Linked DNA regions of Homo sapiens: all the other regions are linked to region 3. Evidence: fine-mapped expression QTL. A gene starts in region 3. Each other region holds a variant in brackets. All regions are shown on one strand. Distances are between the middles of the regions. Region 1 overlaps ZNF276 (zinc finger protein 276). Region 2 overlaps FANCA (FA complementation group A). Region 3 holds the start of SPIRE2 (spire type actin nucleation factor 2).

Region 1 (2,842 bases), 100 kb before region 3:
TGAGGCACGAGAATCACTTCAGCCTGGGAGGCGGAAGTTGCAGTGAGCCGACATCGCACAACCGTACTCCAGCCTGGGTGACAGAGCAAGACTCTGTCCCAAACAGAAACACAGCTACCCAGATAGTTTAGCTAGATACGGGTGCACAGATGAGACAGTGCGGCTCGGGGGCCTCAGGTAGGAACGGGATTGTGAGTGTCACATCTTAGAGCTGCTTGGCTCTGTAAACTTGTATGCAGTGTGTTGAGAACAATTCTATCTATCTGTGTATCTATCTACCTACCTACCTATCTATCTTCCTACTTCTTTGTCTCTCTCTATCTACCTACCTATCTGTATATCTATGTATCTACTTATCTACCTATTTATCTATTTATTTACCTACTTATCTATCTATCTATGTGTTTATTTATTTTTGAGACAGAGTCTCGTTTTGTAGCCCAGGCTGGAGTGCGGTGGTGCCATCTTGGCTCACCGCTACCTCAGCCTCCCGAGTAGCTGGGATGACAGGCACATGCCACCACGCCCACCTAATTTTTGTATTTTTAGTAGAGATGGGGTTTCACCATGTGGGCCAGGCTTGGTCTCGAACTCCTGACCTCGTGATCCACCTGCCTCAGCCTCCCGAGTAGCTGGGATGACGGGCACGTGCCACCACGCCCACCTAATTTTTGTATTTTTAGTAGAGATGGGGTTTCACCATGTTGGCCAGGCTTGGTCTCGAACTCCTGACCTCGTGATCCACCTGCCTCAGCCTCCCGAGTAGCTGGGATGATGGGCACGCGCCACTACGCCCACCTAATTTTTGTATTTTTAGTAGAGATGGGGTTTCACCATGTTGGCCAGGCTTGGTCTTGAACTCCTGACCTCGTGATCCACCTGCATCAGCCTCCCAGAATGCTGGGATTACAGGTGTGAACCACCGCGCCCAGCCAAGAACAATACTTTTTAAAACTTATTTTAGGCCAAGTGCAGTGGTTCACGCCTGTAATCCCAGCACTCTGGGATGCTGAGGTAGGCGGATCACGGGGTCAGGAGATCGAGACCATCCTGACTAACACGGTGAAACCCCATCTCTACTAAAAATACAAAAAATTAGCTGGATGTGGCTGTGGTTGCCTGTAGGCCCAGCTACTTGGGAGGCTGAGGCAGGAGAATCGCTTGACCCTGGGAGGCGGAGATTGCAGTGAGCTGAGATTCTACCACTAC[G/C]CTCTGGCCTGACCGACAGAGCAAGATTCTGTCTAAAAAAGAAAAAAACAAAACAAAGAAAACTTATTTTAAGTAGAGACAGGGTCTCACTCTTTTGCCCAGGCTGGTCTTGAATTTCTGTCTTCAAGTGATCCTTCTGCCTTGGCCTCCCAAAAGGCTGAGATTATAAGCATGAACCTTCAGGCCTGGCCGAGAGAACAGTAATATTTATTTATTTATTTATGGAGTCTCGCTCTGTCGCCACCAGGCCTGGCCGAGAGAACAGTATTATTTATTTATTGATGGAGTCTCACTCTGTCGCCCAGGCTCGAGTGCAGTGGCACAATCTCGGCTCACTGCAGCCTCTGCCTCCTGGGTTCAAGTGATTCTCCTGTCTCAGCCTCCCGAGTAGCTGGGATTACAGGCTTGTGCCACCACACCCTGCTAATTTTTTTGTATTTGTATTTGTATTTGTTTTGAGAAGGAGTTTCACTCTTTGTTACCCAGGCTGGAGTGCAGTGGCACGATATCAGCTCACCACAACCTCTGCCTCCCAGGTTCAAGCGATTCTCCTGCCTCAGCCTCCCGAGTAGCTGGGATTACAGGCATGCACCACTATGCCTGGCTATTTTTGTATTTTTTAGTAGAAATGGGGTTTCTCCATGTTGGTAAGGCTGGTCTCGACCTCCCGACTTCAGGTGATCCGCCCACCCCGGCCTCCAAAGTGCTGGAATTGCAGGCATGAGTTACCACGCCCAGCTCAATTTTTTGTATTTTTTGTAGAGACGGGGTTTAACCATGTTAGCCAGGTTGGTCTTGATCTCCTGACCTTGTGATCCACCCGCGTCAGCCTCCCAAAGTGCTGGGATTACAGGCGTGAGCCACTGCACCCGGACTGAGAATAGTAATTTTTAATTATTTTATTTTTTTGAGTCGGAGTCTTGCTCTTTTGCCCAGGCTGGAGTGCAGTGCGCGATCTCGGCTCACTGCAATGTCTGCCTCCCGGGTTCAAGCGATTCTTCTGCCTCAGCCTCCCAGGTAGCTGGGATTACAGGTGTGTGCCACCATGCCCGGCTAATTTTTGTATTTTTAATAGAGATGGGGTTTCACCACGTTGGCCAGGCTGGTCTCGATCTCCTGACCTCGTGATCCACCTGCATCGGCCTCCCAAAGTGCTGGGATTACAGACATGAGCCACCGTGCCTGGCCTAGTAATTTTTTAAATGTCTCAGAACATCCACCAAGTCCAGGCTGTCCTAGAAGGACTGGATCGGAGTCAGTGGAAGGACTGGGCTTTCTGGTTCTGCTGTTCCTGAGGGTTCTGATGCTTGTTGCTGCCTGTGTGCTTCTGGACGTTGGGCTGGCAGGGCAGGATCAGAGGCTGCATAGCACCCTTGGTGGGGATGGGGCCATGGTGGGGAGAACTTGAGGGTCAGGGACCCCAGTCTCCCTTCTAGTCATCAATAGTAGAATCATGCCTCCTTGCAGGTGAGACCTTTCTGTGCTCCGTGTTGGTAACAGGAGCCTTGTTCTTTGTTTCTCAGGGCAGTTGGGTGAGAAGCAGCTTCCATCTTCAACCTCGGATGATCGGGTAAAAGACGAGTTCAGTGACCTTTCTGAGGGGTGAGAGAAGAGTGGGTTTAAACAGCCTAAA
Region 2 (2,500 bases), 60 kb before region 3:
GAACTGGATGGCCTGAGCATTGGTCCTTCGTTTTTTGGTTCGTTTGTTGTGAGACAGTCTTGCTCTGCCGCCCAGGCTGGAGTGCAGTGGCACCACCTGGGCTCACTGCAATCTCTGCCTCCCGGGTTCAAGCGAGTCTCCTGCCTCAGCCTCCCAGGTAGCTGGGATTACAGGCATCTCCCACCATGCCCAGCTGATTCTGTTGTAGTTGTTGTTAGTGCTTTTTTTTTGAGAGGGAGTCTTGCTCTGTTGCCAAGCCGGAGTAGAGTGGTGCGATTTCGGCTCACTGCACCCTCCACCTCCCAGGTTCAAGCAATTCTCCTGCCTCAGTCTCCCGAGTAGCTGGGACTACAGGTGCCAGCCTCCATGCCCAGCTAATTTTTTGTATTTTTAGTAGAGATGGGGTTTCACCGTGTTAGCGAGGATGGTCTCGATCTCCTGACTTCGTGCTCCGCCCACCTCAGCCTCCCAAAATGCTGGGCTTACAGGCATGAGTCACTGCAACCAGTCGAGTTTTTAATTTTTTTTAGTAGAGACGGGGTTTCCCCATGTTGGACAGGCTGGTCTCGAACTGCTGACCTCAAGTGATCTGCCCACCTCAGCCACTCAAAGTGCTGGGATTACAGCGTTAGCCACCGTGCCTGGCCCAGCCCTCGGTTTATTTTTTGTTTTATACAGGGCCTTACTCTGATGCCCAGGCTGGAGTGCAGTCGCACAATCACAGCTCAGGGGATCACTTAAACCCAGAAGTTCAAGACCAGCTTGGGCAACACAGTGAGACCCCATCTCTCACTAGCTGGGTGTGTGGGTGTGCACCTGTGGTCTCAGCTACTGGGAGGCTGAGGTGGGAAGATCACTTCAGCCTGGGGGACACAGTGAGACCTGTGTCATTTACTCAACATACATACCTACAGCAATACCCATGTGAAAAATTCTCACTTGTAACCAAGGAAGCTCAGAATGAGATTCCATGAGGCAATGGAGATGTCAAAGCACTGTCATGGTGTTCTTAC[A/G]GTTCTAATACTTCTGTTTTACTAATACATATTTGAGCTGGGCGTGGAGGCTCACACCTGTAATCCTAACTGAAGTGGGCAGATCACTTGAGGTCAGGAGTTCAAGACCAGCCTGGCCAACATGGCAAAACCCCATCTCTACTAAAAATACATAAATTAGCTGGGCATGGTGGTGCACACCTGTAGTCTCAGCTACTCAGGAAGCTGAGGCACAAGAACTGCTTGAACCCGGGAGGCGGAGGTTACAGTGAGCCAAGATCACGCTACTGCACTCCAGCCTGGACGATAGAGTGAGACTCTGTCTCAAAACAAAAACCAAAAACCAAAAAACAAAAAAAAAAACAAAACACACACCAAATATATATTTCATTCTCCCTTTCTTATGCAAAAAGTAGCATCTGAGACCGAGTTCAGTATTTTGCTTTCTTCACCTGGATATATATCCTGAGGCATCTCTGTGTTTCTAAGAGAGGATGGCCCTGTCTCCCCCAAGCCACCTGGATGCCTCCCTCCTCACCAGCTCCCAACTTCTCCATTGGCTGTGTGCCTCTCATGCCAACACCCAGTACTCAGTGTTTGGGGCCTGGGGTGAGTGGGGACTGTCTGGTGTGGCCAAGCGCCTAGGAGGGACTCTGTATCCCCGGAGTACCGAGTGCCTGCTCCCCGAGGCCCATGTCTGAGGTGTGGGATCCGCACAGCTGCCATCTGACTCCCTCTCCTTGCTCCACGTACATTTCTTGCGCCTCTTCTAAGTTCTCTGTTATTCAGACCCTGTCATAATGTCAGATCTCCCCTTTCCCGCACAGGGTCTCCGGCACCGCAACAGGGCTCTGTCCCGACCTGGGCTACCTCTGCCCAAGAGACCAGAAGCTACAAGCCAAGCCCCAGCCAGCAACTCCCACCAGAGTCTCCCAGCCCTCTGTCCTGGCTTCCGCCTCTGAGTGGCAGCTGAAGGGATTCTGTCCTGGCTTCTGCCTGTGCGTGGCAGCTGCAGGGAGCCCTTGAGGCACTGAGCAGACCATTCTTAACCACAGGGTCCTTCCTCACCTCAGCACATGGCCCCATCTGCTGAGCCCTAGAGAAACAGCCCGAGGTGTACACACTGGGAAGCTACTCACCATGGGGTGCCGAAGAACCTGACCAGAGGGAGCTGGTCCAACCAAGGGCCAGACAAGGGACCAAGACAAAACAAAGCAGCTCTCACCAGGACATCAAAGAATGCTTAACGATATAGACAGTTACTATCTACTATTAATTTCAGCAGTTTAGTATAATATGATCTCATTTTTATGAACAAAGAAACAAACGCACGCATATTATAAACAAATGACAGATAAAATTCTGGAAGGATATATACCAAAATGCTAAAAAGTGGTTATCTTTGGGTGGTATGTCTGCATGTCTGTCTCTTCTAATTTTATCAAACGAGCATGTGTCACTTTTCGAGAGAGAGGAGAGAAGACGCGACTGTGGAAGAAGAGCTCACT
Region 3 (2,842 bases):
ACGGGACGACATGGCTCATGCCTGCAACCCCAGCACCCTGGGAGGCTGAGGCAGGGGGATCACCTGAGGTCAGGATTTCGAGACCGGCCTGGCCGACATGGCGAAACCACCCAAAAAATTACCCGGGTGTGGTGGTGGGCGCCTGTAGTTCCAGCTACTTTGAGGCTGAGGCAGGAGAAACGCTTGAATCTGGGAGGTAGAGGTTGCAGTGAGCCAAGGTTGCGCCACTGCACTCCAGCCTGGGCGATAAGAGCAAAACTCCTTCTCAAAAAAAAAAAAAAGAAAGGGAAAGAAAAGAAAAGTCCAGCTGGACTGGGCGCGGTTGCTCACGCTTGTAATCCCAGTACTTTGGGAGACCAAGGTGGCCTGACTGCTTGAGCCCAGGAATTCAAGACCAGCCTGGGCAACATGGTGAGATCCCATCTCCACAAAAAATAAAAACAATCAGCTGGGCGTGGTGGTTCATGCCTTTAGTCCCATCTACTCAGGAAGCTGACGTGGGAGGATCACTTGACCCCAGGAATTTGAGGTTATAGTGAGCTACGATTGTACCATTGCACTTCAGCCTGGGTGAGACCTTGTCTCTAAAAAAAAAAAAAGAAAAAAAAATCATTGTGGAACTTCTTTTCTGGGATGGGATCTCACTGTGTTGTCCAGGCAGGTCCAGAACTCCTGGGAGACCAGCGAACTTTAAGTGCCCCAAGTTTCACCTCGGACCTGCATCAGAATCTCCAGCCCTGGAGCCCAGGAATCTGCATTTCTTGCCCCCGGGTGGTACTGGCAGCACCCAGGCTTGGGACCGTTTATGCCCCAACTGCATTTTCTTGCCCACTTATTCAGATCTGGCACAACTATGAAGAGGCCTCGGGATGAGCCCCAGCCGAGTTCCCCTTGCGTCCCTCAGGCAAACACCCAGTGTCCAGGAGTGACCCGGCCTGAAGACACAAACACGCCCCAAATGCGATGCACGCCATCACTGGCCAACCGTGTGTGTTTATTTTTCACGGACACCCTGGAGACGTCACTGCAGGCACATTCCCTGCTAGGCAGAGGCATTTATTAAGGGCTTCATACCCGAAGGCCGGATGCGGGGAGTCGCCCTCACCCCAGCCACCCTGCGACAACCCCTGGAGGTCACCTTGCCCGGGGCTCGGGGAGGCCACTGCGGGCTTTGTCTGCTCAGCTCCTCCCGGCTCCCTCCCGCGTTCCCAGCGGCAAACCTCCCAGGCCCCCCGCGGTCACCGCAGTGTCCCGGGCTGGATGCCGGCCCGGGCTTTTGTGGGCATCGGCCGTCTGGGTCTGCGGGGGAGCGCCGGGGGTGTCACCGCGTGTCCGAGCGCGCGGGCCCTGGCCCATGTCTGCAGCCCCCAACCCTCCCCCCGGTCCTGCCCAGCACCCCGGAGGGGTTCGCACCCCGGCCTCGGCCCCGCGCCCCCGCGTCCCCAGCCCTGAGCCCCAGCCCCTCCGCACCTACCCGCGCCCCGCCCTGCCCCTCACCCGTCCCCCTCCGGGCCTCTCCCCGCGCGCCCTCCACTCCCCGCCCCGCCCCGCGTCCCTCCCCCTCCGCGCCCCGCCCCCCGCGCCCTCCGCGCCCCGCCCCCGTCGCCGCCCCGCCCCCAACCTGAGGCGCTCGCGCGGGGCGGGGCGGCCAGGCTGACCCTGCGCGGCGGAAGGCGCGGCTGCATGGACGCGGGTCCGGCGCGCGGGAGGCGATGACGGCCCCGCCATGGCCCGGGCGGGCAGCTGCGGCGGCGCCGCGGCGGGCGCAGGGCGGCCGGAGCCCTGGGAGCTGTCCCTGGAGGAGGTGCTGAAGGCCTACGAGCAGCCGCTCAACGAGGAGCAGGCGTGGGCCGTGTGCTTCCAGGGCTGCCGCGGGCTGCGGGGCTCGCCGGGCCGGCGCCTGCGGGATACCGGGGACCTCCTGCTGCGCGGGGACGGCTCGGTCGGGGCGCGGGAGCCCGAGGCCGCGGGTGAGGCCGGGGGCGGGGCAGCCGGCGGGGACCGCGGTCTGGGGCGTCCGTCCCGCCCCCTGGGTGGGGGTGGTCCCGGCGGAGAGGCTGCGACCGGTTCTGGAGCGGGAGATCCCCTTCTCTGCGGGACCCGGAGCTCCCTCCCTCCCACTCTCCGTCCCTCTTTCCCTCTCTCTTTCCTCCCTCCTTCTCTCCCTCCTTCCTCTCCCTCCCCGGCCCTGGACGTTCCCCTCCCGGACCCCCCCACCTGACGCCTCTCCCAGCGCGGAGCGGGCTGCTCCCCAGTGGCCTGGCTTCCTCCGGGAGAGGGACTTGGGCCGGTGGCTCAGGGAGCACGGAGCTGGCCTTTGCTGGGGCGACTCCTCCCCTGCCTTCAGCAGGAAAGGAGACAGAAGCGTCCCCTTGGGGCATTTTCTCCTGGGTGGAAGGTGGGGGGCTGCGCCTCACTTGGCGTCTGAACTGACACTAAATTCCTGGGTTTAACTGGGAGAGGAAGGGGTGTGTAAAGTTGGGGGGACAACCTGCTTGGTGTTTCTATTCTTAACCATCAACCAGAACCAACAATTAAGCCCTAGAAAGATACTTGAAGTTAGTGAGAATGGTGAGCTTAAGTGATTATTTACCCTTTACGAAAAAAACCGAAAGTGATTTCTTCCCTGGAGAGCTGGAGTGCTGGCTTGGAGCATGTGATATGACCCCAAAAGCTGGTACCCTGCCGGGGGGCAGAGGCAGGCTGTGTGTTTGCCGCACTCTCTCCAGGCCTGAGAGCTGTGGGTTTGCATGAGCAGGCCTATGTGGAGGACCAGGAAGGGCCAGGGCAAGGCCAGACAGAAGCAAGCTACAGAGCCACGAGGGGTGGGGGCCGTTGTGCC

Evidence for each region. PIP is the estimated chance that this variant, and not a neighbour inherited with it, causes the effect.
Region 1: its variant is fine-mapped to the expression of SPIRE2 in whole blood (TOPMed, PIP 0.92).
Region 2: its variant is fine-mapped to the expression of SPIRE2 in whole blood (TOPMed, PIP above 0.99).

Annotation. Positions count from the first base shown.
Region 1 is chr16:89,724,547-89,727,388 of GRCh38, forward strand. ZNF276 (zinc finger protein 276) reads left to right here. Exons shown (of 11, transcript NM_001113525.2): 5 at 2,733-2,811. Among named protein-coding and RNA genes, the nearest start is that of ZNF276, 4.4 kb to the left of the region's middle. The variant G/C (reference allele first, on the strand shown) is at 1,210.
Region 2 is chr16:89,767,338-89,769,837 of GRCh38, forward strand. It overlaps FANCA (FA complementation group A), which reads right to left. Exons shown (of 43, transcript NM_000135.4): 26 at 2,500. Among named protein-coding and RNA genes, the nearest start is that of ZNF276, 47 kb to the left of the region's middle. The variant A/G (reference allele first, on the strand shown) is at 1,014.
Region 3 is chr16:89,826,825-89,829,666 of GRCh38, forward strand. SPIRE2 (spire type actin nucleation factor 2) reads left to right here and starts at 1,651. Exons shown (of 15, transcript NM_032451.2): 1 at 1,651-1,970. The coding sequence starts at 1,727. RefSeq lists a silencer at 1,705-1,794.